4 linked regions of the Homo sapiens genome follow. The protein of the gene in region 1 interacts with the protein of each later gene in a biochemical or structural test. Each region holds a gene or a part of one and is shown on either strand. Other genes may lie near its edges.

Region 1 (7,026 bases):
TTTTGTTATTTTAAAGGGGGATGGAATGAATTAATGAATGTTATTTTTAAAGGATTCTAGAAATTGTCTCTTTGTTTTGGTATCCCCTGAAATGTTTAAAAACTCAACCATTAACCCTCAGTATACCACTGGGTTCCACGGGTCCACTTTTAGTTTTTCAGTTCCTTTTCTGAGCAGTTCTCACTATTTGTATAAATTAGCATTTCATAATTTTTATCTTTTCTTAAGTCTTTCAAATAATGAGAAAATTTACTTATTTAAAAAAACAGAATAAAATAAATTATATTTTGCAATTACCAGAGAGGTCCAAAGAACCCTTTCATAAATCTAAGATATATTATAGGATTATTGCAGTATTTTTATATTTCCTGTATCTTGAAACATTTTGCCATTTCATCATCCTAGGAATTATTTCATCATTACTTATCAATTATTCCCTTTTGTAATAAAAAGAAATTAAAATAAGAAAATGATCTGAAAGGATGATGCAATAACTTATCATTGTTGAGCTTCTTTACTGTGCTGTACAAAGTATCATGTCACCTCCAGAAAGTATAAAAGAAGACTGAAAACACCATTTTTGTAACCTGTTTTTAGTTTTCATTTTCTGCCTATCCAGTATTTGCAAAGTGGAGACAACTGACAGAGGAAGACATCTTGCCACTGTTAAAGAAATCAAAAGATGAATGGTGTGGTAGGCTAAAAAATGGCCTCCCAAAGATATTCACTTTCTAATTCCTGGGACCTGTGAATATTACTTTCTATGACAAATGAGTGAAAATTATCTTATATGGAAAAAGATGTGATTAAGATAAAGGTTTTGAGGAGTTTATTCCAGATTATCCAGCTGGACCCTAAGTGTAATCACATGCATCTTTTTAAGAGAAAGGCAGAGGAAGTTTAGAGAGAGAAGAAAAAGCAACATAACTATGGAGGCACAGAATGGCATGGCGTGGCCACAAGCCAAGGGATGCCCACAGCCACCAGAAGCTGGAAGAGGCAAGAAATGGATACCTAGAGTCTCTGAAGAAATCACAAATCTGACACCTTGATTTTGGATATGTGGCCTCCAGAAATGAAAGAGAAGTAATTTCTGTTGTTTTAAGTCACCCAGTTTGGATTACTTCTTATGGTAGTCTTAGGAAACTAATACAAATGCAGAGACACATTCTAGAGTCTAGATGATAAAATCGATCATATGTGAAATCTCAGATGAGTCTTCAGCAAAACATATCCTAGGTGAATTTTCTCAAACTTAAGAATCAGTCAGTAAAAAATATATTTCTAAGCATAGAAAGGAAAAATGATTTTATCATAGAGTTAATCATTTCAGCAGGGAGAACATACACCCAATATTTTACAAGTATCTAGACTATCTTGTGTTGCTACAAGGATGTAACTATACTCTCTCAGCTTTTTATGTTTGTGAGTCAAACATTACTTGATACAAAGATGGTTACCATGCTTACATTCTTATTAAAATTTTAAAGTTGTTTTACACAATCCCTTTTAATCTTACTTTTAAAAATTACTCATAAAGTGATTTAAAAATATTCGTCTGTGGGTGTATGTTTGCATGTATGAGGGTGTCTATGAAACCTAGATGGTCAATAGTGATTTAAAAAAATGTTCTACATGCAGCCACTCTGGATTTTATAAACTGGTCTGCACAGCATATGGCAACATTGTAATCCCAGTGGTGAACAGTAGCAGTAGTAGCAGTAGCAGCAGTAGCAGCAGTAGCAGCAGTAGCAGCAGTAGCAGCAGCAGCAGCAGCAACTCTCTCAAATTGGCTCAAAGTGCTAGTCTTCTCAGAGGTGTCTATCCAAACACTGCTCTACAGAAGCCAATTTTAAAGCAAGTTCTGGCCTATTCACTATCCAAGAACCTTTTGTGGACATAGCACTGTACCAAATACTATAGAACTAAGATATCATTTTTATTAAAAAAAGAAAAAACAAGGAAATCTCCCATAAAAACTGACTGTCCTAGGGATTATCTTTCACTTCAAATCTGGACCATAATATTATTTTACCGATCTGTAATTTCTCAATAACCACAAATGCAAGTTTAGAAAATAATACCTTAATCTTACGCATGAACAAGACACACTACGGTTCTAGTCACCAAAGTCTTTGTTTCCCTTTGACTCAACGCAAGAGCTTCGGCTTTTGAAAATAGCAGCACATGGCCAGGCGTGGTGGCTCACACCTGTAATCCCAGAACTTTGGGAGGCTGAGGCAGGCGGATCACCTGAGGTCAAGAGTTGGAGACCAGCCTGGCCAACATGGTGAAACCCCATCTCTATTAAAAATACAAAAAATTAGCCAGGTGTGGTGGTGGGCACCTATAGTTGGGCTACTCAGGAGGCTGAGGCAGGAGGATCGCTTGAATCTGGGAGGCGGAGGTTGCAGTGAGCCAAAATCGCACCACTGCACTCCAGCCTGGGCAATAAGAGTGATACTCCGTCTCAAAAACCTAAAAATAAAAACAAAAATAGTGGCACACAACATCTACTTACATTCAACTACATCAATATTAGTACCATGAGAAACTGTCATCTGTAACTTACTAAAGATTTAAAAATTTACTAAAATTTCATTTAGGATACTTATAGACTATAGGATGTTTTTTCCTTTAGTAATCCCACCTTCTTTGTTGTGGTTCTTAGAAGGCTAAAACTATGACATTTCTTATATAATACTGAATATGAAAAAGCGTCTTTCTCCAGTTTCCACTAGGACAAAATTAAAATCAAATTACTTTTCTTTCTTTTTTTTTTTTGAGACGGAGTCTCGCTCTGTTGCCCAGGCTGGAGTGCAGTGGCGCAATCTTGGCTCACTGCAAGATCCGCCTCCCAGGTTCACGCCATTCTCCTGCTTCAGCCTCCTGAGTAGCTGGGACTATAGGCGCCCACCACCACGCCCAGCTAATTTTTTGTATTTTTAGTACAGATGAAGTTTCACCGTGTTAGCCAGGATGGTCTTGAACTCCTGACCTCGTGATCCACCTGCCTTGGCCTCCCAAAATGCTGAGATTACAGGCGTGAGCCACCGTGCCCGGCCTCAAATTTCAACTGAGGTACCTAGTACTTCTACCTTATAATATGAATTATTCATATAAAAGGCTACAAAGGCATAAAAATGTTCCTCTGGCAAACTTATGTTACAGAGAATAAAATGTGCTACAAATCAAGGCTTAGTTTAATCTTAAATAAAATCTCTGTTATCTCCCTTAATGACCTTATTAATGGAAACCTGGAACCTCTGGTTATCAGCTACTGATGGCATTCTTTTAAGTAGTTAATTAATAAAGACAACTCTAAGTCTAATAGCATATGGTCCAACAACAATTACAAAAGTCACAAGGACAACCACAAGACTCTTTCTTAAACACTCAACAGTTTATTAAAAACCACAATCAAGCATTTCCGCTTTAATAAATTGTTATATAAACATTCTGATGTTGTGGTTTACCCTGGCCTAATGAGGCATTCTGATTCATTTCTAGTGTAACAGAGTAAGATAGAAAACTGAGTCATTAACACAGCATTCCCTTGTGAAAAAAGACAAACCAGGATGATTAAAGCAATGTTGAAAGGGCTGAAAACCCTGAAATTGGACATATTTTTTTGCCCTTTTATCTGTCTGCAAAGTCCATGTAATTCATTACATGTGTTAGTTCATTTTAAAAATACTCCATGGTATTTTTTCTCTTTTAAAAAATGCCAATGGTTGAAACCAAGGAAACATATATTAAACCATTTCATACAGAGTATAATTGAAAGGAAAAAAAAAGAGAAAATATTTCAAATTTCCAAGACAGAGGATATGCTTAAAATATTCATAAGCTTTTAAAAACTAAACTAGATCCTCTTACTCTGATGAAAGCTAAAGTGAGGACTAGACTTCAATCCTATAGGACTATATCAGATATCAAAAATTTTAATGGAAAGAACACAGACTTGGTGTCAGAGTAACAGTTTTGGCGAAACCACTCAGATATTTACTTTGCTAGATGCTGAAAGATGAGCAAAAACACTTCCAAACATTAAATAGCTGAGGGTTTCGCAGCAAAGACTAAAACGTAAATAAATAATGCAAGAACTGCTCTAATGGCACACGAACAAGGTTAACTAGTAGGGCAGAGTTAAGGAAGACTTCACTGAAGAGGAGACACTTGAATTAGCACAAAAGAAGAATAAATACAGCACTGAATGGGGTTGTTTTGAGGCTTCAATGATGATATACATAAAAGCCCCTGGAACAGCTGGCAATAAACATTAATTAAATCATACTCCTTGTTCAGATTCAATTTCCCCAACTCACCGAGCGTATGAATAGTCTAAGCTGGCCTGATCAATCCGGTTCCTGAGAATTCCAATGTCAGCTGACACCATGTCATCTAAAGCCTGCAACTCCTTCTGGATCCGCTTTAGTTTCATGGTCTCTGCCTGAGTTCTTTTGGATCTAGAAAATCAGGTATGTGAGTGGGAAAATAAGAACATTTTAAAACCATGTGTCCATATACAATGTAAGTGAAAAAGCAAGATACTGCATATACATTTATAATTTATATTTTAAAAGTTAGAAAAAAATCAGAAAAATTGAAATAAAGTAAAAGCTGGTTAACATTTGAGTTTTTGAAATTTTATATTTGCATGTTTCATAAAGTAACAAATAAGTCTAAAAAAACTCAGCAAATAGTTCATTTTAGATTGATATTCATTCTGTAAAGAGAACAAACACTAAAAGAATATATCTGTGTTCCCTTTACATTGAAACATTCAACAGAGCTTTCCAAATTTCTAGTCTTTAATTCTTCCTCTTGCTAAGCCCATTTTCATTTGTCTGATACTTACCTGACATTAAGAACAGATAGATGTCTATACTAAACCACACCTCTTTATATATCTGAGAACATCCACTTAGTTTTAACTTTCTTGGGACCCATTTCCCCAAACTTTTATTGCTTTGATTCTTGTTCTCTAGGAAAACTACTAGTTACGAAAATTCTTTATGGAGCTGAACATCAAAACACTCATTTTCCTTATTTAAAAGCACATCCAACCTCATAATTTCTCAATCCCCTCTCCCAAGTACAATATATACTTAAGAAAGGGAACAAACAAATAAAAAAGCAACCCTTTAATCATGATTTCACTCATTTCAAATTTTCACACACATTGTGAAGGAAGAAGAAAAATCCCCACATAAATCCACCATGTTACATAGCACATTCTCTTGATTTCTACTCTTAGGCATTTACCCTTCCTTTCTGCCTACAAAACTTCACTTAACAGTATGATTCTTTTACGTCAAGTACTTCATTGTCCATTTATTAATAGTTCAAACGTTGTATTTCCTTACACTTCTGTTTATACTGGTGCTGTCTAAAATCAAAAGCACTTATGAGAAGAACTGCTGAGCCTGTACATCTTTTTGTAAAACCACAGAAAACAGCCTTCCCATCTCTTAGAAATTGAAGACTACTAAAATGCTTTAATTATTTTTAAATAATCACTTACCAAAAAAAAAAAAAAAGAGGGCACTACTCTTTTATCTGCTGGTTTTTTCCTTTGAAACATAGTAACTCAGTGAGTTGCATTATTTCCTATGCTTCAAGAAAGATCAAGGTGTACCAGTAGTAGAAAAAGAAAAATCACCATTTCTCAACTACACTCACTCCTCTGGCAGACAAAATTCTGAACTACTCTTATACCCATCACCTTCTTCCCTCTTCTCCTGCCCCTACACATACTCTAGCTTCAAGCAGTAACAGTTTGACAGACTTTTCTGGAAGTCTAAAAAGAAAATGTACTTCCTTGCATTTAGTTTTCACTATTCACAACCATGGATATATTGACTAAGTTTAGTTTCCTAAGGCCACAGGAGATTAGACAGAAACTACAAACTCAGCAAGAGTGGTGGGGGATGGGAAGAATGATTCCAATGGGAATGTTGTTGTGTGCGGCTGGTACAATGCAGTAAATGTGAAGGGGCTGCTGATAGACACTGGAAGGTGAAAGAAAAATTGAATCTCACACAGTGCTCATAATAATGACCCTGAGTCATCAATAAAAAGTTAAACTATATCATGTATCTTCTACTTGTGGAGGCGGGGCAAATTATTTAAGAAAAATGCCCATAGGAAATCCAATTAAGATTCATGGGAGTATGTCACTTATGTAGAAAACCTTATTCCTCTACACATCAAATGATTAAGGCCTCCCCACATAAAAATTAAAACTTGCATTTGTTGCTAATTTACATATACTGATAGCTATTTACTGCTTCCCTTATGAATGTGTAGATGGTTAAAACTGGGAGCACTAATGAAGGTCTTTAAAACTGCAACTATATTTACAAATTTAATATGCTCTATGCTTAAAAAGTTCTCTTTAATAAATTATAACTAGTATTTCAGTATCACTTATAAAGCATAATTTGTTTAGTTAGTCTTAAAAGTAATGGTTGAAGAAAAAATATCAGTTTATTAAAAGAGACATGGGAAAACAAATATAACACATGACACAACTGGTTACAGGTTACAAACAGCCTCTCCTGGTTCAGGTGCCTCACCTTTCTGCAATAGCTTTAGCCAAAAGAGCTTTTTTACGTTTATTTTTCTCTTCCATTAGCCGTTGTTCTTGTTGGAGGACTTCCCAACGAGATTTTTCTTGCCTAGGGGGCAAAAAAAGCATAAAAATGAGTTTATGAAAGAAAAAGAAACTGCTACCCTATCCAACACCTTACCAGTCTCAGTCCTCTAAGTATAAAATTTAATCAAGAAGATTTATGTATATGTTCTTTCAAAAGTCCTCTTAAAAGAAACCCATCTGCAGTTCATTATTTTGCTCTAATGGGAACAAAGACTACGATCTAAAGTAAAGAGGCTTACATAAATTGGACCTCTGAAATCCATTATATATATAATCTAGGAATCCACAAACTGGAAGCCAGAATACTGTGGCATGTGTTTAGGAGTACAAAGAAATTTGTGTAAGTTAATTATGTATTATATGCA
Region 2 (7,026 bases), about 58 Mb from region 1:
TGATGGCCCCATCCCAGAAACAGGTACCCCCAGACTGGCAGCCCCCTGCTGCATGGCATCTTGAGGAGAGGTGGGGGCTGTGCCCACTCAGGCAGGGACCATTCCCTGGTTGGCACAAAGCCCTATGTATGCTAGCAGTGGCCCTGCCCCATAGCCAGCTATACAAAGTGGGGTTCAGCAGCAGGCCGATGGAGGGAAGGACGGAGGCTGAGGTCTTCCATGGTGCCTGCTGACCCCTGCCCTGTATGGCCCAGGTCTCATTGGCTGGGCCCGACAGGACTGCAAACGAGATCAAGGTCACTGTGGGCAACCATGCTGGAAGAGCCTCTCACACAGACACAGAGAAGTGCCTGCACACTCAGGAGGGAACATGGGGAGGGTGTGGACTGAGGTGGCGGCCCTAGGCAGTCACCTGTACTTCCTAGAGTAAAGCTGGCTGATGCACCCACCATCTCCTGGGGGCAGCATGCCTGTGTGGAAGCACTGGAGAGCCGGTGAAATAGTTAAGAGATTTTATTCTAATAGCTATAATTACAGTGCTTGTTTGTCGAAATGAAAACTGAAAACAAGTATACAAAACAGTTGATTACTAATCGTGTATTGAAAGCAGTAAGAGGTTCCACGACACCAAATAGACCAGTTCTGAGGTTTCCCCAAGATAAATTTAACAGCTCCAGCTTCAGTGTTTATCAAAATACAAAAGAAAAAAGTAGAGGTTGTCTTTTTCGATGGCAAATCGGACCCTTGCAGGCTGAGGGAGAGAAAGCTACATCACACACAGAGGTGGGGTGCTCCCGAGGGGCTGTGGGTCTAGGTGGACCGCCTGCCCGGCTTGCACGCGCTCCTGCTGGTGAGGCCCCAGACATCCTGCCAAAGTGTCTGAGCGAGCACGAGTGTTGGGGACGACGGACCCACTCTGGCCACACGGCGACCGAGGGACAGATGGGGCCCTGCGTCCCATAGGCTGCCTGAAGGTGGGTAGGGCGGCCTGCGGCATAGTGGGGTGGCTGTGGGCTCCCAGCCTGGCCCCTGGGAACCGTGGGAGCACAGGGACAAGCACATGGCTATGGAATGCAGGGTGACCCAAGGACAAGCGAGTTGCGGGGATCTCTACTGTGACCATGCAGAATTGATCGCAGTCTGCTGCGCCACCACCACCTCATGTTCCCGAGGGGAACAGCTGGGCTGGCGACTGGCATCCAGGCCGTAACTGCAAATCTATGCTAGGCGGGGTCTCCCTTCTGTGTGTTCAAGTGTTCTCGACTTGGATTCTTAACTATTTTAAAAAATGCACTGAGTTTGGGTTAAAAACCAACCACCAAAATGGATTTCAACACAGCTCTAAAGCCAAGGGCGTGGCCGGCTCTCCCAACACAGCGACTCCTGGAGGCCAGGTGCCCATGGGCCTACATCCCCTCTCAGCACTGAACAGTGAGTTGATTTTTCTTTTTACAATAAAAAAAGCTGAGTAATATTGCATAGGAGTACCAGAAACTGCCTCATTGGAAACAAAAACTATTTACATTAAATAAAAAGCCTGGCCGCAGGCTGCGTCTGCCACATTTACAGCACGGTGCGATGCACACGGTGACCAAACCACGGAGGCAGCTTCTGGCACTCACACCACGAGCCGCACGTTTGCCACATGAGAGTAAAGCAGAGGGCAAGAGGAGTGAGAGGGAGGGGGGTCGCGTTCACTTCTGGTTCCGGAGCTGATTGGACAGCCAGTCCAGTCCTTCATAGAGCCCGTCGCCGCTGGTGGCGCAGGTGGCCTGAATGTACCAGTTCCTGTGGCGTAGTGAGTGCAGCCCCAGCTTGTCTGTGATCTCGGCCGCATTCATGGCGTTGGGGAGGTCCTGGGGGAAGGAAGGGTTGGTGGGAAGGGCTGTCCACAGGACAGAGAAAGGGGCCCCACCAGCCTCCAGTAACCCCTACCACCAGGCGGAACCCACACTGGCTCCTCACATTCCCCAGGCTGGCCCGGGCGCCTACCTGCTTGTTGGCGAACACCAGGAGGACAGCATCCCGGAGCTCGTCCTCGGCCAGCATCCTCATGAGCTCCTCACGGGCCTCGTTCACACGCTCTCTGTCATTGCTGTCCACCACGAAGATCAGGCCTGCCGGGCAGCCAGTGTCAAATGGTCATGGGAACACAGCCCCCCTGCCGCATCTATGGGCATCGATGCCCCATCTATGGGCTGGCCCCCCCTCTCTAGAAGCAGGAGTGCCCATGGGACCAGGCCCCAGCCACTTACCTTGTGTGTTCTGGAAGTAGTGGCGCCACAGGGGCCGGATCTTGTCCTGGCCACCCACGTCCCACACAGTGAAGCTGATGTTCTTGTACTCCACGGTTTCCACGTTGAAGCCTGGGTGCGGGATGCAGGGTGAGGCCTTGTACCTTGGCCCAGCCCAGCCCAGCCCACTCCCTGCTGGCCCCCACCTCACCTATGGTGGGAATGGTGGTCACGATCTCACCCAGCTTAAGCTTGTAGAGGATCGTGGTCTTCCCTGCAGCATCCAGGCCCACCATGAGGATGCGCATTTCTTTTTTGCCAAAAAGGCCCTTGAAGAGGTTGGCGAAGATGTTCCCCATGCTTGTGGACAGGTGGAAGGACACTGGCCAGGGACACCTGGAGAGACAAGGTGCTCCATGTCTGGTTCTGTGCTGCCCAGCAGTGGTTGCTCAGAACCCACCCACCCAGGGATGCACCACTGCCTCACCCCACCTCCTGGAAGCCTGCAGGGAAACAGGGAAAGAGCCCTGCCTCCCATGCCCCCCAAATCCACCTCAGGATGGGGGCTGAGGGAAAATGGCTGAGTCAGGAATTGAGAAACTGTTGCCCTCATCTTGGGAAGCTGTCCCCACAGCTGCATGGCCAGAAAGGCTGCCTCATCCCAGCCTATGCAGGAGGGGAGGCTGGCTGCCTGAGGACTGGCTTCCAGGTGCGTGCAAGGCTCCTCTACACCCCAACACAGAACCTTCCAGGGCCAGAGAGCACCACTCACTGTGCCTGCCCACACTCACAAGGACCAGAGCACACAGGGCCACGCCAGACTCAGCAGGACACCTTCAGGGACACACTCCCATGAGGACACAGCCTCGATGGGGCACGCCCGCCATGTCTGCCCCACACCGCAAGGGTAGGGGTTCCCTCAGCAGAACACAAATATCGGGGACAGCAATTAAGTCAGCTGGCACCCACCATCAGAGCCCTGCGGAGACTCCAGCAGGAAGGGCCTCCACTGCCCAGACGCCTCTGTGAGGACACTGAAGTTGTTAGGCTTTGGCCTCACTGGCCAGTGGGCAATTTCACGAATCAGGTGATTTTATCCCGAACAGGGACTTTAGAAAACACTGGTCACTTTCTGAAACAATGACTGCTTCTTCACTGCACCCGCAAGCGGGGCTTACCCCGAGTGAGGAAGGCTTCTGCCTTCAAGAGGACATGCCAGGAGCCTGTGAGCACACCCACCCCTCATCAGACCTCCTCCACCAGGGGTTCCACACACAGGTGGCTTTTGGCTGAATCACAGCCATGACTGTCCGCTGGTGACTCTCTCATCCAGTCACCCCAGCACGCTACGGCAAGGAAATGCCTCTTCTCCATTTCTCAACATCAGCAAGAGCCCACACATGCCTGTGTGTTTCAGTGGGTGTGAACTGGCCGCCCGTGTCTGATTTAACACTGCCATCATCCCAGATGAGCCACAGAACCCCTTCAAGCTGGATCAGTGTCCTTTGGACACTTTGCTCTTGGTTTTGAACATGTCACCTATTCTGAAATTTAAATGAGTTCTGAAATTTATAAGGACCTTCACTGTAGTGTTCCCTTTTTGGGGACGGCCAGGTTTTCTAAGCCCAGAGGAAGACCACCACCCATGGAGCACAGAAGAGACTGAATACCTGCCCTCTCAGTCCACTCCTGCAACCACTACCAATGAAGACACCAAAATGACACACACGCCTTGAAGGGCAGAGAGAAAAGGGAGGAAGACCTTGGATGTGATGATTGACCAGGCAGAGAAAACTGGACCGCCTGGGACCCAAGGGATGAAGCTGGGACTGCCTAGGGCAGCAATGTCCAATCTTGGCTACCCTGGGCCACAATGGAAGAAGAATTGTCTTGGACCACACACAAAATATACTAACACAACAGCTGGTGAACCAAACCAAAACAAAAACCCCCAAAATCTCAATGTTTTATTAGAAATTTGTGTTGGGTCGGGTTCAAAGCCATCCTGGGCCACATGCGGCCTAAGGGTTGGACAAGCTTGGTCTAGGGGAGCAGCTGCAGCAGGGCTTAGGCCTGCGCTGAGCCATGACAACACACTTGAGCCATGAAATTCCAGAATAATTCCTGAGAGTTCTATATGCCCCAGCAGATCCACACACAAGCAACTGGAGCTCCGCCCACCCCCACCCCCCACCAAGAGACAGGCCTGTCTGCCTTTGAAAGGCCACCAACATAAGAGACCCAAATATAAAAGGAATCTGCAAGGAGGCAACCAAGACAGGAGACTGAAGACAGAATACTATTTTAACAAAGGACAAGGAGAGAAACCTGATAGATACACAAATAGCTGAAAAGGAAAATTCAAAATGAAGGTGCTCAGAAGGCAGAACAAAAACAAACAGAATGAAAAAGGAAGATGAGGAGTAACTTAAGATATCAACCAACAGAAACCCTAAAAAGAAAGAACGTACGAAATTACGGGGTGAAATTTTTCCCTGTTCCAGAGTGGGGACCCAGGAATCTGGGCTTCGGCCTCAAAGGGCTGAAGCGCAAAGCCAAGGACCTAGATGAGACCCAATAAAGGTGCAAGGTGGACTCCAGAATGCACAGGGGCAAATGACACCTCTGATGCCCCAGAGAATGGAAGACTCTGAAACACTGCTTTCGAAACCCTTTAATTCTATACCCAGCCAAAGTATCCAACAAGTGTTAGGGGAGAATGAAAATAACTCCCAAACTGCAGGGCCTCAGATCTCTCACATGCTCCCTCCCTAAGAAGCTCCCCCAGGGAACCAGGGAGAGGATGCGAGCCCACAGCAACGTGGAGAGAGAGCAGCAGCCTAGCCAACCCCACATGGAGAGAGAGCAGCAGCCTAGCCAACCCCCTCAGACTGGAGCAGGAAGTGGACACCTGCAAGAATGGGGCACGCCACCTACGTATTCTTATTATGGGGTTGGGCAACTCTAGGCAATGCGGAAAAACTAATAATGACAGGTTCGCATGAAAAACCCAAGCATGAAATGGAACGAAAAGAGGGCCTTTTATGAGTTACTCCAGGAAAACATATGGTGGAGGATACTCAGGGAGTCCTGATGTTGTTATTACTAGGGGGTTGGAAAGCTGAGGCGAGGGTGTGTGGTGTCAAAGGCTTGTTAACTGTACAAGTTAACAAGTCTAGGAGGAATAAACCTAGGACACCAAGTCAGCAGGGACTCAGGAATAAGGGTCGCCTGCCAGTTGGGCAGAGGCAGCACCAGACTGCCACGACCACTGAAGCACAGCACTTGGGAGAATTGACAGTAACACCCAGCCACTCAGGGGAAGGGGTGTCACACCGTCACCAACCCCCTCGACCCCAGCACTGTCCGTGATCCACACATGCCTGCTGCCTCCTCATGCCCGGGGCAGTGCCGCCAACCATGCCCAGGAGATCATGCAGCCTGCAGGCAGTGGGGTTTGTGATGCCAGTAATCCCAGGCCCTCCCCATTGGTGGCTTTTTTTTTTTTTTTTTTTTTTGAGACAGAGTCTCACTCTGTCATCCAGGCTGGAGTGCAGTGGCTTGATCTCAGCTCACTGCAACCTCTCAGGTGCGATCTCGGCTCACTGCAACCTCTGCCTCCCAGGTTCGAGATTCTCTTGCCTCAGCTTCCCGAGTAGCTGGGACTACAGGCGCGTGCCACCACGCTGAGCTAATTTTTATTTTTATTTTTAGTAGAGACGGGGTTTCACCATGTTGGTCAGGGCTGGCCTCGAACCCCTGACCTCAGATGATCAGCCCACCTCGGCCTCCCAAAGTGCTGGGATTACAGGAGTGAGCCACCACGCCCGGATTTTTTTTTTTTTTTTTAACAGACCAAAGCGTTAAGAGTCCCCAAAGGAGGGAAGCCACCCTGCAATGGAATGGCAGAACCAGGATGGGTGAACCTGAAGTCTCAGGTGTCAAGACATCGGCACACAGACAGCTTGGTCTCTCCTACCGACAAGCACATCTGTGGCCCTGCTGCACATATGGGCAGAGGGTGGCTGGCACGTCCTGCCTCGGCATGTTCCAGCATCCCCACAGGACCCTATACCTGGCAGCCCCTACATCATTTACTGCTTCTGTGACAGATGGAGACCCAATAGAGTTTCCTAAGAGGGAGAAAGAGTCCACAGCAACCCCCACCCTCAATTCCAGGGCCTCTTGGTACGGGTCCTAACTTGTGTCATGCCCAGGCCAGGTGCTGTCACCCTTTCTTCCACCAGAGTCCCTGCACACAAGCCAAAACCCGCTTTTCAGGTTCATCGGAATTATCCTGTGGTAGGAGCAAACCTGACTTTCTCAGAGCCTTCCTGCTTGTACACAAGGGGACCCCTCACACTTTGAGAAGGGGCTGCCCAGCAGGAGGATGCCAGGAGCCACCAGTGGCTACTTCTCTTTCCTGACCACGCTGTGGGCTCCAACTCTGAGGAAAAAAAGTCTTTTAGGAAGAATGTTTCTTTCTTCAGTGAGGACCACAGACCAATGGTAAAGGTGGCCTTCAGGCATTACACCAAAGAACGGGACAGTCAACTCTGGCAGCTACATTCCCCGACACCTCACTGTGCCTGAACAGGGGCAGGGAGAAAATGTAGCTCTGTGAGTTCACATCCGTTTTGTGTCCATGAATGGATCCAACCAAACTGGTCCAGATGCACATGGGGTCCAGATGCCTCTGTGGCCTGTACCCAGACCACCAGCCAGTACTGTCCTCGGTCCCTTGCAGATCTCAGGGATACTTTGGCATGAGTCAGGGAAGGGAACAGGCGCA
Region 3 (7,026 bases), on another chromosome or scaffold:
CAAGAATCTAGCAAAAAGTAAACAGACCAGATCCCCAACCTTGGGAACTCTTGCTGGGGAAGAGACAGAAAACATAAAAACCATAAATAAGAGCCAGGTGCAGTGGCTCACGCCTGTAATCCCAGCACTTTGGGAGGCTGAGGCGGGTGGATCACCTGAGGTCGGGAGTTCGATACCAGCTGACGACATGGAGAAACCCCATCTCTACTAAAAGTACAAAAATTAGCCGGGAGTGGTGGCACATGCCTGTAATCCCGGCTACTCAGGAAGGCTGGGGCAGGAAAATCGCTTGAACCTGGGAGGTGGAGGTTGCAGTGAGCCAAGATTGTGCCATTGCATTCTAGCCTGGGCAACAAGAGCAAATCTCCGTCTCAAAACAAACAAAAGAACACCATAAATAAGAAAACCAGCCAGTGCGGTGGCTCCCGCCTGTAAACCCAGCACTTTGGGAGGCCGGGGCTGGCGGATTATTTGAGGTCAGGAGTTTGAGACCAGCCTGACCAACATGGAGAAACCCCGTCTCTACTAAAAATACAAAAAACTAGCCAGGCATGGTGGCGCATACCTGTAATCCCAGCTACTCCAGAGGCTGAGGCGGGAGAATAGCTTGAACCTGGGAGGCAGGAGGTTGCAGTGAGCCGAGATCGCACCATTGCACTCCAGCCTGGGCAACAAGAGCAAAACTCAGTCTTAAAAAAAAAGAAAAGAAAAATCCAGTGCAGGAAGGAAAGTACTGGAGTGGGTATTCAGGGATGGGCTCTCTGAAGTGTGACATTGGAGCTGGGGCCTGAAGGACATGACTGTGGGAGCCAGAGGGATGGTACCTGGAGTAAGAGTTCCAGGCAGAGGCGACAGCACGTGGAGAGATACTGAGGAGGGAGCCCTCTGCTTTGCCTCTGAACCTTGGTTTCCACATGTGTATAGTGAGGAGCATCTGGGTGCACTGGCCTGCAGGGTTGCTGTAGGGAGGAGGGAGGAAGGCTCTGCTCTATGCAATGCCCGGCCCCAGCCGTGTGTGGGGAAGACAGCGGGGGCTGAGAATCAGAATCAGGAGCAGGGGAGGAGAGTGGCAGACACTCCACAGACCCTGACCCAGCAGAGGTCATGGAATCTTGACTCAGATGCTGTGGGGCGGGGAGGGCCTTTGGAGGGTGGAAACCTGGAAGGAGAAGCTGCTGGAAACGCTGAGACCCCGTTGCCTCCTGGGCAGTGTCGGGGCAGCAGGAACTTTGTTACGTGGAGTTCTCCTCGTACGGCTGGCTCTGCCAAGCTACCCTTCTCCTTAAAGTGTACCCCATAGGAAATAGGGTTTCGGGAGCCTCCAGGAGAACATGGGAGGGCAGTGCCCAGGGGCCCCTCTTCCCATTGTTAGGTGGAGTGGTGGGGAGAACCCAGCTGCTACTCTCTTGATGTATGACCTTGGATGTGATTTAGCCTCTCTGGGCCTTGGCCCCGCTGAACCATGTGATCAGAGCACCAAGCCGGCCTCCCACGCTGGTCTGAGCTGCTCAAGGGCCATCTAGGTCCTCTTTGTCCCAAGCCAGAGGTCGCCTCTCCCCGGCCAAGCCGCGGCTATGGGGGTGGTGGTACAACAGAGAGCACAGGGACTTTGGAACACAACACTGGGTCATGACCCCTGCCTGGCCACTCTTGGCTGCTGACCTTGACCCTCTGTCTCCTCCTTTGTGAATGGGGGGAGTGACAGCATCTTTTGAAGGGTACAGCACAGGAGAGGTGCCAAACCAGTGAGTCAGACCCTCCTCTGACCGCTTCTTAGCTGTGTGACTTTGGACAAGCTCCTTGCCCTCTCTGTGCCTCAGCTTCCTTGTTGGTAAAATGTGGATTACATTAGCACCTACCTGGTAAAGTTGTGAAGAGGACTGAGATAATCTGTGTAAAGGTTTTAGCACATAATCTGTGCTCCAGAAATATGAATTGGGGGTATTATGGCCTCAAAGGGGGGTTAGGAGGACTAAAGGAGACCGTTGAGCTTACAGGCTGGTCCATTTTGGCTCAGTGGGAGGATGAGGTCTGGGAGTAAAGTGTACCTAATCCTTGCCTTCCCACGGCCTACCAGGAACTTCCTGCCCAATCCAGCCAGGGCAGGGAAACCAAGTAAGCCCCTTCACCTCTTTGATCTTCAGTTTCCTCCTCTGTGCTCACATCCTGGGTGGCGAGCAGTAGAGGCAACACTGATAAAGGGCCTGATGCCCTTAGTGATGCCTCTGCTGTCCCTAGTGGCTGCTCTCCCAGCAACAGGTCAGGTAGCCGCAATGGCAGCAACAGTCCCTAACCCACCGAGCATCTGCCGTGTGCCAGCCTGTTCTGCAGCTTTTATGTGCATTTTCTGGTTGAATCCCAGAACTATCCCGTAGATGGTAGAGCTGTTATCCCATTTTACATGGCAGGTAAGTGGGACAGTTGGGCTTTGAACCCAGGCAGCCAGGCTCCAGAGCCCATAAGGCCCATAAGCATCACTTCTCCTTGTCCTCACCCATGGCTGGGTTTGGGCTGCAACCAGGCTGATCTCTTCCCCGGGTCCCGTCCTCACTCCCCCAGATCAAAGAGCCAGCCGAGAAGCAAAAATTCTTCCAGGAGCTGAGCAAGAGCCTGGACGCATTCCCTGAGGATTTCTGTCGGCACAAGGTGCTGCCCCAGCTGCTGACCGCCTTCGAGTTCGGCAATGCTGGGGCCGTTGTCCTCACGCCCCTCTTCAAGGTGAGTGGAACTGTGGGGTCCAGAAGGCTGGCTGGGTGCACAGGAACTGCCAAAGAGAAGGCCCTGGGGTAGGGCAGGCTGTTTAGGGCAGACCCAAGCCCATATGAGCAGGAGCTTCCTGCCAGTGTCTATAAACAGGTACCTGACCAGCTGTCCCCTGGGGAGGAGAGACTCTGCCGCTAAAATCCTTTTTTCCACAAACCTCTGGCTTCACAACCCTCAGCCCTTCCTCCATTTCTCCGGGTCTGACCTGTGCACCTTGGTTCCCAGGGCCCAGGGGATTACCTACTCACCACCCCACTTTGCCCTCCTCCCTCCTGACTGCTTAGCACTCAGCTCACCTGACTTCTGGGGGCTGGATCTTCCACCCTTTCCTCAGACCCCAGCCCGCCTTTTTATGGGCACCTGGCATTCCCTGCCCTCCTCACCTTGGGGAGAACCCTTTCATCTGAAAGACTTGTCAGGAGGGGAGAAGACAACAAGCAAGTCCTGTATAGCTGAGAACCCCCAGAAATTGCAGGCAGAATTTCTGCATATGGCATAAAGGTACCTGTTTGTAGGGAGGGGCCCAGAGCTTTCATCAGCCTCCTGAAAGAGGCCTTGGCCCAGAAAGGTTAAGGGCAAGGCTGAGATGGAATATGGGTAGAGGAGCTACTGAGGAAATGCCTGCCCCCCCCTCCGCCATCACTTCATTCCCACCCTGGGATATCAGCCCCAGGAATTTAGATAAGCCCAGCAAAGTCAGCCCATTCCTGTGAGCAGCTGAACCCATCTTCCTGCCCTTTCAGGTGGGCAAGTTCCTGAGCGCTGAGGAGTATCAGCAGAAGATCATCCCTGTGGTGGTCAAGATGTTCTCATCCACTGACCGGGCCATGCGCATCCGCCTCCTGCAGCAGGTGAGGCCTCTGTACCAGACTCTGTGGTGGTCCACCCAGACCCCAACCTGGTGGCTGGGGAGGCACCTGCCCTGGCTGCACAGGGACCCCAGAAACCCCACCCCTGAACATACACACAACTGAGGGACCCAATGAGGCCAGGCTCTCAGAAAGTTGGCCACATACAGGGCTCCTTGGCAGTTTTGGGAATGGCCAGCTTGCCCAGGCTGCAGCGCTCTAATGCCCCCTCCTCTCCTGGCTCAGTCACTCTGGCCCTCTAGAGTGGGGATACAGTCTTTCTCCTGCAACCCCAGGGCAGCTGGGAGCATCAGACAAGATGGATGGGATCTAGGAAGTACCAGTGGCTCCCAGTGCCATTCCCTCTGTGACCACCAAACACACCAGTCCTCCTCGTGGCACTGTGGGCAGGTGGGGAGGAGCAGGGAAGGGGTGATACCCTCATTTATAGAAGAGGCTCAGGCTGGGCGCAGTGGCTCATGCCTGTAATCCCAGCACTTTGGGAGGGCCGAGGCAGGCAGATCACCTGAGGTCAGGAGTTTAAGACCAGCCTGGCCAACTTGGCGAAACCCCGTCTCTACTAAAAATACAAAAATTAGCCAGGTGCGGTGGTGGGTGCCTGTAATCCCAGCTGCTCAGGAGGCTGAGGCAGGAGAATTGCTTGAACCTGGGAGGCAGAGGTTTCAGTGAGCTGAGATTGCGCCACTGCACTCCAGCCTCGGTGACAGAGCAAGACTCTGTCTCAGAAAAAAAAAAAAAAAAAAAATAGAAGAGGCTCTGAGAGGGTGGCCAGATGAGCCGGACTATGAGCCAGGCCTTCCTAGCGCCCTCCTGGCCTTTCCTCACTCCTCCACCTGGGCCTGAGGCCAAACACCTGGGTGGTGGCTCAGGAGGTTGACCTGGCTGGCCAGTGCCTGCTGGGTGGAAAAGCTAAGCCAGGAGCGGTTCCATGGCTATGGGGATAGAGTGGGAAGGGCTGACCATGTTGACGCATCCCAACCTGGGCCACAGATGGAGCAGTTCATCCAGTACCTTGACGAGCCAACAGTCAACACCCAGATCTTCCCCCACGTCGTACATGGCTTCCTGGACACCAACCCTGCCATCCGGGAGCAGACGGTCAAGGTGGGTGTGGCCAGGCCCAGAGTGGCTACCCCTGGTTTTCCAAGGCTTGGAGGGGCTCACCCTAGACACAGAGGCCTTGGCTTTGGCCCATGGGTCCAAGCAGACACTGTCCTTGCTGTGTGGGTTCAGGCCGTGGGTGCAGCTCGGCAGCTGGCGGGGGAGCACGTCCTCCATTCAGCAGACAACGAGCATCTGCCTGTTCCTGGCCCAAGCCCCATGCTGGGAGGCAGCATGCATGAGGTGCCCAGCCCCCTGCACTCATGGAGCTTCCTTTCCAGGGCACAGAGGGTGGGCTTGCCAGACAATACAACAGAATTAGAAAATATGTATTGTTGGCTGGTCACGGTGGCTCACGCCCATAATCCCTGCACTTTGGGAGGCTGAGGCAAGCGGATCACCTGAGGTCAGGAGTTCGAGACCAGCCTGACCAACATGGCGAAGCCCTGTCTCTACTAAAAAGTACAAAACCATCTGGGGATGGTGGCGCATGCCTGTAATCCCAGCTACTCGGGAGGCTGAGGCAGGAGACTCAATTGAACCTGGGAGGCAGAGGTTGCAGTGAGCCGAGATCATGCCGTTGCACTCCAGCATGGGCAACAAGAGGGAAACTCTGTTTCAAAAAAAGAAAGAAAATATGCATTGTTGGAAAGTGTGGGGAGAAGAGTTTGTGGTTTTAAAAACAGTGGTCAGGGGCTGGGCGCAGTGGCTTACGCCTGTGATCCCAGCACTTTGGTAGGCCGAGGTGGGAGGATCGCTTGAGCCCAGGAGTTGGAGACCAGCCTGGTCATCATGGCCAAACCCCATCTCTACAAAAAAATACAAAAGTTAGGCGCGTATGGTGATGCACGCCTATAGTCCCAGCTACTCGGGAGGCTGAGGCAGGTAGGTAGCTTGAGCCCAGGAGGTTGAGGCTGCATTGAGCTGTGATCGTGACACTGCATTCCAGCCTGGGCAACAGAGTGAGACCTCATCTCAAAATTTAAGAAATTATTTTAGGCCGGGCCTGGTGGCCCATGCCTGTAATCCCAGCACTTTGGGAGGCCGAGGCGGGTGGATCACCTGAGGCGATGGGAGTTTGAGACCAGCCTGGCCAACATGGTAAAACATGGTAAAACCCCATCTCTACTAAAAATACAAAAAATGGCTGGGCCCGGTTGCTCACACCTGTAATCCCAGACTTTGGGAGGCTGAGGTGGGCGGATCACAAGGGCAGGAGATCAAGACCATCCTGGCTAACATGGTGAAACCCCGTCTCTACTAAAAGTACAAAAACAATCTAGCCGGGCATGGTGGTGGGCGCCTGTGGTCCCAGCTACTTGGGAGGCTGAGGCAGGAGAATGGTGTGAACCTCGGAGATGGAGCTTGCAGTGAGCCGATATCGCGCCACTGCACTCCAGCCTGGGCAACAGAGCAAGACTCCGTCTCAAAAAAATAAAATAAAATAAAAATTAAAAAAATTAGCCAGGCATGGTGGTGGGCGCCTGTAATCCTAGCCACTCAGGAGGCTGAGGCAGGAGAATTGCTTGAACCCAGGAGGCAGAGGTTGCAGTGAGTAGAGATCACACCACTGCACTCCAGCCTGGGTGACAGAGTGAGACTCTATCTCAGAAACAAAAAAGATACGGAGACGAGAGTGGCTCTGAGGCTTGTGGCCTGAGCAACTGGAAGGTTAGGAGTTGCTATTTACTGAGATGACACAAGCATGTTGGGCCCCATCTTGGCTGTTTCTGTTAGGCAGCTGGATGGAGATGTCGAGTTGGCCACTGGTTATGCATGTGTGAAATTTAGGGAAGTCTGGGCTAGGGGTATGTGCCTGGGGGTTGTCAGCTCACAAGATGGCATTGAAAGCCATGAAATGGCTGAGATCACCTAGGGCAAGAGTGTTAGATAGAAAAGAGCCCTCTAGATTGGCTCCGGGTGTGTGAACGTTAGAGTCTCAGCAAAAGGAGCAGCCAGCCAGGTCAGAGGAGAACCAGGAGGGGGTGGTGTCCTGGAAGACCAGAGACCAAAGTTTCAGGGAGGGAAAACTCAGGGGTGTCAGAACTGCTGAGGGTCAAGTTTGGTGAGGATGGAGAACTGGCTGTTGAAATTAGTACCGGGGAGGGCATCAGTGACCTCACCCTGAGCCAGTTTGGCAGAGTGTGGGGCTGTTTGTGTGAGTCTAGGTGGAGTGCCATCAGGAGAGCAGAGCAGAGGAAATGGGAAACAGGAGTGCAGACAGACTTTGGAGGTTTTGCTGTAAAGGGGGACAGAAATGGGGTCCCTTTCTTCAACATGCTGGACAGGGCCA
Region 4 (7,026 bases), on another chromosome or scaffold:
TAGTAGAGACAGGATTTCACCATGTTAACCAGGATGGTCTTGATCTCCTGACCTTGTGATCTGCCCACCTCTGCCCCCCAAAGTGCTGGGATTACAGGCGTGGGCCACCGTGCCTGGCCTCATTCATCAAACATTTATTGGGCATACTGAACTAGGGATACAGAGAGGGAGACAGTTTCTGCCTTCATGAAACTCAGTCTTTAATGGAAAAGACTAGTGAAGACAGGACTACAAAACAGTGTGAGAGTAAGAGTAAAGCACATAGTATTATGTGAACAGAAAGCTGGAGCAGTAAATCAACACTGAAGGGTAAAGGGTGATTCTGAAACCTAATTCTCAGGTCATACCTGAGCTGGCTCCTAAAGGAAGACGAGGAAGTAATCAGACAATAAAGAGGGAGTTGGGCAGGGGAAGTGTGTGCAAAGGCATAAAGACTGAGCCAGGCACAGCAGGACACACCTGTAATCCCAGCACTTTGGGAGGCTGATGCAAGAAGATTGCCTGAGGCCAGGAGTTCAAGGCCAGCCTGGGCAACATGGCAAAAGCCCATCGCTACAAAAAAAAAAAAAAAAGCTGGGTGTGGTGGTGCACGCCTGTAGTCCCAACTACTCAGGAGGCTGAGACAAGAGAATCACCTGAGCCCAGGAAGTTGTGGCTGCAGTGAGCCATGATCACGCCACTGCACTCCAGCCCAGGTGACAGAGTGAGAGAATATGTCTCAAAAAAAAGAAAAAGAAAAAAAGACCTAAGTTTCAGATAGCACTTTAAAAAAATTTATATAATCTTTTTTTTTTTTTTAAAGAGATGAGGTCTCACTCTGTCACCCAGGCTCACTGCAGCATCCAAATCCTGGGCTCAAACAATCCTACTGCCTCAGCTTCCCCAGTAGCTAAAAAGACCTACGGGCCCAAATCATCGTGACGCAGCTAACTTTTTTATTTTTATTTTTGGTAGAGATAGAGTCTCACTTTGTTGACCAGGTTGGTCTCGAACTTCTGACTTCAAACGATCCTCCAGTCTCAGCCTCCTAAAGTGAAGAGTACAGGCAAGGTGTGGTAGCTCACGCCTGTAATCCCAGCACTTTGGGAGGCCGAGGTGGGCGGATCACAAGGTCAGAAGATCAAGATCAGCCTGGCCAACATGGTAAAACCCCGTCTCTACTAAAAATAGAAAAATTAGCCGGGTGTGATGGTGTGGGCCTGCAATCCCAGCTACTCAGGGTGCTGAGGCAGGAGAATTGCTTGAACCCAGGAAGCAGGGGTTGCAGTGAGCCAAGATCACATCACTGCACTCCAGCTTAGGTGACAGAGTGAGACTCGGTCTCAAAAAAAAAAGAAAGAAAGAAAATGATGAGGGATGGGGCTGGAGAGATAAGCAGGGACTGGATCATGAAGGGCTTTAAAGGCCATGCTGAGTAACGTGATCAGGTATGTGCTTTAGAAGTTTCAGGAGTAAATTAGAAAGGGGAAAGACTGGAGGCACAGACACTGCTTAGGAGGTATAGTAATACAGGTGAGAAATCGCAAGTTGTCAACTACAAGTGGAGATAGAGAGAAGAGGACAGATTTGAAACATCAAAATGGTAGAATCCACAGGATTTAATGAGTGCTTAAATGTACGCAGAAGAGTAGAATAATCAAAGATGATTCCCAGGTTTCTGGCCTAGGGCTGGGTGGCATTTCTTCAGAAAGAAAATACAAGAGGAACAGATCTGAAGGTGAATATGTATGTTTGTTTGTTTGTTGTTGTTGTTGTCTGAGACAGAGTCTCGCTCTGTCGCCCGGGTTGCAGTGCAGTGGCGCGATCTCGGCTCACTGCAAGCTCTGCCTCCCGGGTTCACACCATTCTCCTGCCTCAGCCTCCCGAGTAGCTGGGACTACAGGCGCCCGCCACTACACCCAGCTAATTTTTTGTATTTTTAGTAGAGACGGGGTTTCACCATGTTGGCCAGAATGGTCTCGATCTCTTGACCTCATGATCCACCCACCTCGGCCTCCCAAAGTGCTGGGATTACAGGCATGAGCCACTGCACCTGGCCTGAACATGTTTGTTTTTATTATTACTGTTGTTTTTAGAAACAGAGTCTCACTCTACCACTCAGACTAGAGTGCAGTGGCATGATCATGGCTCACTGCAGCCTCCATCTCCTGGGCTCAAGAGATCCTCCCACCTCAACCTCCCAAGTAGCTAGAACTACAGGTGTGCATCACCATGCCTGGCTAATTTTTAAAGTTTTTTTGTAGAGACAAGGTCTTGCTATGTTACCCAGGCTGGTCTCGAACTCCTGACCTCAAGCAGTCCTCCCACCTCAGCCTCCCAAAGTACTGAGATGACAGGCATGAGCCATTGTGCCTGGCCCCTCAATCTTAGAAAAGGACCTATGGCAATGTTCTCTTGTCCAGCCTTTGGATGTTGATGATGTAGAAGGATGAGAAGCTAGAATAATCTGGAGACCATAAAGAGAGGGAGACAGACATTAAAAACTCCAGGATGTCAGAGCAGAAAAATGGGAAAAACTCAGTTGGGTCCTTAATTACAGTATCAAGCTGGTAAACTAAACTTTTTCTTTTTTAGAGATGGGGTCCCACTATGTTGCCCACGATGAAATACAATGGCTATTCACAGGTGCCCTCATGGTGCGCTACAGCCTCAAATTCTTGGGCTCACGCAATCCTGAGTAACTGGGACTATAGGCATGCACCACCACGCCTGGCATCTTTCGTTTTCTGAGATGGGTCTTGCTCTGTCACCCAAGCTGGAGTGCAGTGGCGTGATAGTGGCTCACTGCAGCCTCCACCTCCCAGGCTCGAGCAATCCTCCCACTTCAGCCTCTGGAGTAGCTGGGACTACAGGCATGCACCACCACGCCTGGCTAATTTTTGTTTAACTGAAGTTTCGCCATGTTGCCCAGGCTAGTCTCAAACTCCTGGGCTCAAGTGATCCGCCCACCTCGGCTTCCCAAAGTTCTGGGATTACAGGCATGAGCCACTGTACCCGACTGGCTTCTTTTTTTTTAAATCATAGTAAAATATACACAAAATTTACCATTCTAACCATTTTTTTAAGTATACAATTCAGTAGCGTTAAGTACATTCACACTGTAGTGTAACTATCACAACTATTCATCACCTCAACTTTTTAATCTTCCCAAACTGAAACTGTACCTGTTAAACAGAGGATCCCCAATCCCCCTGTCCCTCCAGCCCCTGGCAACCACCATTCTCCTGTCTCTATGAATCTGTTACTCTAGGTACTTCATAGAAGTAAAATTGTACAATATGTGTTCTTCTGTGTCTGCCTTTTTGTTTTTTTTTTGAGACGGAGTTTTTGCTCTTGTTGCCCAGGCTAGAGTGCAATGGCGCAATCTCGGCTCACTGCAACCTCCATCTCCTGGGTTCAACCGATTCTCCTGCCTCAGCCTCTCAAGTAGCTGGGCGATTACAGGCACCTGCCACCACGCCCGGCTAATTTTTTGTATTTAGTAGAGACAGGGTCTCACCATGTTGGTCAGGCTGGTCTCGAACTCCTGACCTCAAGTGATCCACCTGCCTCAGCCTCTCAAAGTGCTGGGATTACAGGCGTGAGCCACTGCACCCGGCCTATGTCTGCCTTTCTACTAGATGTCTTGCTATATGATTTAATAAATCCTCTCAGCGTTTTAGACACGTGTGTTTTCTATTTTTGCAACTAATACATCCTAACTGATATATCTAGGGATAGTGTACACAGTGGGATAGAAGAAAAGGGCAAAGGCAGAAACCTGCCTGACATTTCAACATTTAAAGTAGTGGGAGCCAGGCGCGGTGGCTCATAGCTATAATCCCAGCACTTTGGGAGGCCAAGGTGGGCGGATCACCTGAGGTCAGGGGTTTGAGACCAGCCTGGCCAACATGGTGAGACCCCATCTCTACTAAAAATACAAAATTAGCTGGGCATGGTGGGGCATTCCTGTAATCCCGGCTACTCAGGAGGCAAGACTGGAGGACTGCTTGAAGCCAGGTGGTGGACGAAGGTTGCAGCGAGCTGAGATTGCACCATTGCACTCCAGCCTCGGTGACAAGAACGCAACTCCATCACAAAAATAAATAAATAAATAAATAAATAATAAATAGGCCGGGCGCGGTGGCTCATGCCTATAATCCCAGCACATTGGAAGGCCAAGGCGGGCGGGTCACCTGAGATCGGGAGTTCGAGACCAGCCTAACCAACATGGAGAAACCCTGTCTCTACTAAAAGTACTAAATTAGCCAGGCGTGGTGGCGCACGCCTGTAATCCCAGCTACTCCATAAGCTGAGGCAGGAGAATGGTTTGAACCTGCGAGGTGGAGGCTGCTGTGAGCCAAGATCGTGCCATTGCACTCCAGGCTGGGCAACAAGAGCGAAACTCCGTCTCAAAAAAAAAAACTAATTAAAATAAATAAATAAATAAATAAAATAGCGGGCAGAAAAGCAGGCCAGGAAAGAATAAGAAGCAACCAGAGAGGCAGAAGGGAAATCAAGAGAGCAAGACATCATAGACACCAATGGGGATAGAACATACAAAAGAAAAGAGGGAGGATCCAAAGCTAGAGTTTTGGTGTAAACTAAAACGTACCTAACTAAATAAGTTCCTATTAGCTCAATTAGTGGTGTTTAGGCTCAGGCCAGAATTGTTATGCCAGCTTCCCATCTAGGCAAAGAACAATCCTGGAAAAGACTCCAGGACACGCAAACCTGAAGGACGCCACAGCTGTGAAGTGAAGAAGGATCCCGAACCGCCCTGTCTGATGGAGACCCAAAACGCCTGGGAAGGGTCTGGCTTTTACCACAGACAACCCTTAGCAAGTGAGTCAGAAAAGATGACAAGGTCTGTTTTAGAATCCTAGTCAGATAAAACAGTGACAAGATAAAAACTAGACTCATTTGTTTCTTTGGAACATTCTGTGGTACTGCCCTCTGCCCAAAAATTACAGCTTGCCTTGTTCTTAGAATCTGACCAGCTTACAACCACTACAGCTCCTGATATTCTATGGCTGTACCAATCCAATGCCCACCTCTACAGTCTTGGATATCCAGAACACTATAAATTCCTAATCACAAAATCACTGAAAGTCCATCAATAGCCTAGACTCCTAATAATCTTCTGCCCCTAATCTGGTCCCATTGTGCAAGTCAAGATGGAGCTGACAGTAAACTGCTTAAACAGGAAGACATGATGTGGACAAGGCCAACCATTATACAGAGCAGCCTAAGGACACAGAGGAACAGAGAACTGCCTACTTAGGGAATAAGAGTTACCTGCGATCCCTCGGCATCCCAAACACACTTCTACTCTAGGACTTGCTGCAGTATTCACGTTTGTCTGTTTTGCTTTCCAGAGCTGCAACTGCCCAATGTGCCTCTAGTGCATTACAGGTCAGCTGGAGATACTGATCCTATCAGCCACTGGATGGCTGGGCAGGGCTTGGGGTGGCTACAGCCCTTGGGCCAGCCATCTCAGATTTCAAGTCTCACTATTACCATTTTTTGTGTATACCATGATGAGAAAAAGGCTGGAAAGTACCTCACTAGACTGTGAGCTCTTTGCCAGCACAGACTATGCCTTATTCATATTTCACGTCTCCAGCATCCAGCACCAATGACTGACCTATAGCTAGTGACTGACAGGCGTGTTGAGAACGGTTCTACTGAGGGTGGCAAAACACTTGTGGGGTTGAAGAAGACTGTATTCTATAGGTGGTCTCTGATCCTTTTCCCTGTATCTGACAAACTGAAGAAATGGTTTCCATGTCCTCAGAGCCCACAGGTTCTGCTTGAAGAGAGGAGAGATCATGTGAGGGGCTGTAATTATACCCCACCCCCATTTTCCACCACCAGTAGAGAGTAACTCCACTTTTGTCCATTTTATGTATTAGAATTCAAATAAAATTTTATTTAAGGTTTGACTATTTTTTTTTTAAAAAAAGGACATAAACCATTGCAACAGAGAGCAAATGCTCTCCTACATCTTAAGCTCATGCTGAAGTTTAAGCATTCACGCTTGACACTCCTGTGCATAAGCTAATAAAGGAAGGATTATGCCAGGCTTTCAGCAGTAATGGGAGAACTAAAAGGTACCAAGAGACCTGCCACACCCAGTCATCTCAACTTTCTTCAGGAATATGGTAATAATGGTGGATCTCTAACATTCTGAGCCATTTCCTTTCTGGTCCACATGGTGTGGCAGATCCTTTGCATAAGTCCATGGTAAAGCTCTAACACATTCATGAAATCCCTACTTTAGTCAGTTCTTTACCAGACTATAATATGAAACCTTCAAACATCTGTGGGACCCTTTCCAAACGCTCCTCATGTCTTTTCATTATCAAATAGTTTTATTAGCACTCTATCTATATTTGCAACAGATGTTCAAGTGAAGAAGGTACGGTAGACAGATAATTCTACAGATATCACAATTTCTAGGCCATGATATTCTGAAACAGATACTCAAAAGCAGACATTTTTTATTAAGATTGGACTAAATGAAAAGAGTGGACTAAATGAAGATCCCCATATACTGACTGAGACCTAAAATAAGGGCATCTAGGAATCTAAATCCCTGACCTAGGTCATCAGGGTGCTCTTTTCTGGAAGAGTGAACCATTATCTCAGAGTCACACTGACTTTTCTAATATGAATACTATTCTTGTGCCCCCATATCTTCACCCTACATCCAAATTGATGGTTCAGGGCCCCTGCCTTGCTCCAGCTTCACCTCCCACTCAGGCAGCAGGAGCTGTCTCTGCGATGCTGATGCTGAAGCTGAAAAAAGATTTCGCTGCTCATAAGCCTACGACCAGCACAGAAACTCATGGTAACAATCATCCCTCTACACAAGCACCTCAGGCAGCAAGTTGTTCTTCTGTAAACCTCTTTTCCTCTAAGGCAGCCCTGAGTGTTCATATTATTAGGATTATGATAATGGATTATTAATAGCAGCTAACAGTTATTTGGTACTTACTATATGCTTTGTACAATACCAGGTGCTTTACATTTATCTCATTTAAT

The links.
Region 2: the proteins of GORAB (region 1) and ARF1 form a complex in vitro, tested with the Homo sapiens proteins (one study listed by BioGRID).
Region 3: the proteins of GORAB (region 1) and SCYL1 form a complex in vitro, tested with the Homo sapiens proteins (one study listed by BioGRID).
Region 4: the proteins of GORAB (region 1) and ARF3 form a complex in vitro, tested with the Homo sapiens proteins (one study listed by BioGRID).

The regions. Positions count from the first base shown.
Region 1 is NC_000001.11:170,542,148-170,549,173, reverse strand, and holds part of GORAB (RAB6-interacting golgin), read right to left. Parts: intron 6,684-7,026; coding exon 6,582-6,683; intron 4,470-6,581; coding exon 4,329-4,469; coding exon of another isoform or gene 4,325-4,328; exon of another isoform or gene 3,383-4,324; intron 1-3,382.
Region 2 is NC_000001.11:228,092,682-228,099,707, reverse strand, and holds the end of ARF1 (ADP-ribosylation factor 1), read right to left. Parts: intron 2,631-7,026; 5' UTR 2,594-2,630; coding exon 2,446-2,593; exon of another isoform or gene 2,367-2,445; coding exon 2,256-2,366; intron 2,118-2,255; coding exon 1,993-2,117; intron 1,857-1,992; coding exon 1,695-1,856; 3' UTR 496-1,694; downstream 1-495. UniProt on the Homo sapiens protein: Small GTPase involved in protein trafficking between different compartments. Modulates vesicle budding and uncoating within the Golgi complex. In its GTP-bound form, triggers the recruitment of coatomer proteins to the Golgi membrane.
Region 3 is NC_000011.10:65,528,070-65,535,095, forward strand, and holds part of SCYL1 (N-terminal kinase-like protein), read left to right. Parts: intron 1-2,559; coding exon 2,560-2,718; intron 2,719-3,506; coding exon 3,507-3,614; intron 3,615-4,622; coding exon 4,623-4,736; intron 4,737-7,026. UniProt on the Homo sapiens protein: Regulates COPI-mediated retrograde protein traffic at the interface between the Golgi apparatus and the endoplasmic reticulum. Involved in the maintenance of the Golgi apparatus morphology.
Region 4 is NC_000012.12:48,947,487-48,954,512, forward strand, and holds part of ARF3 (ADP-ribosylation factor 3), read right to left. Parts: intron 1-7,026.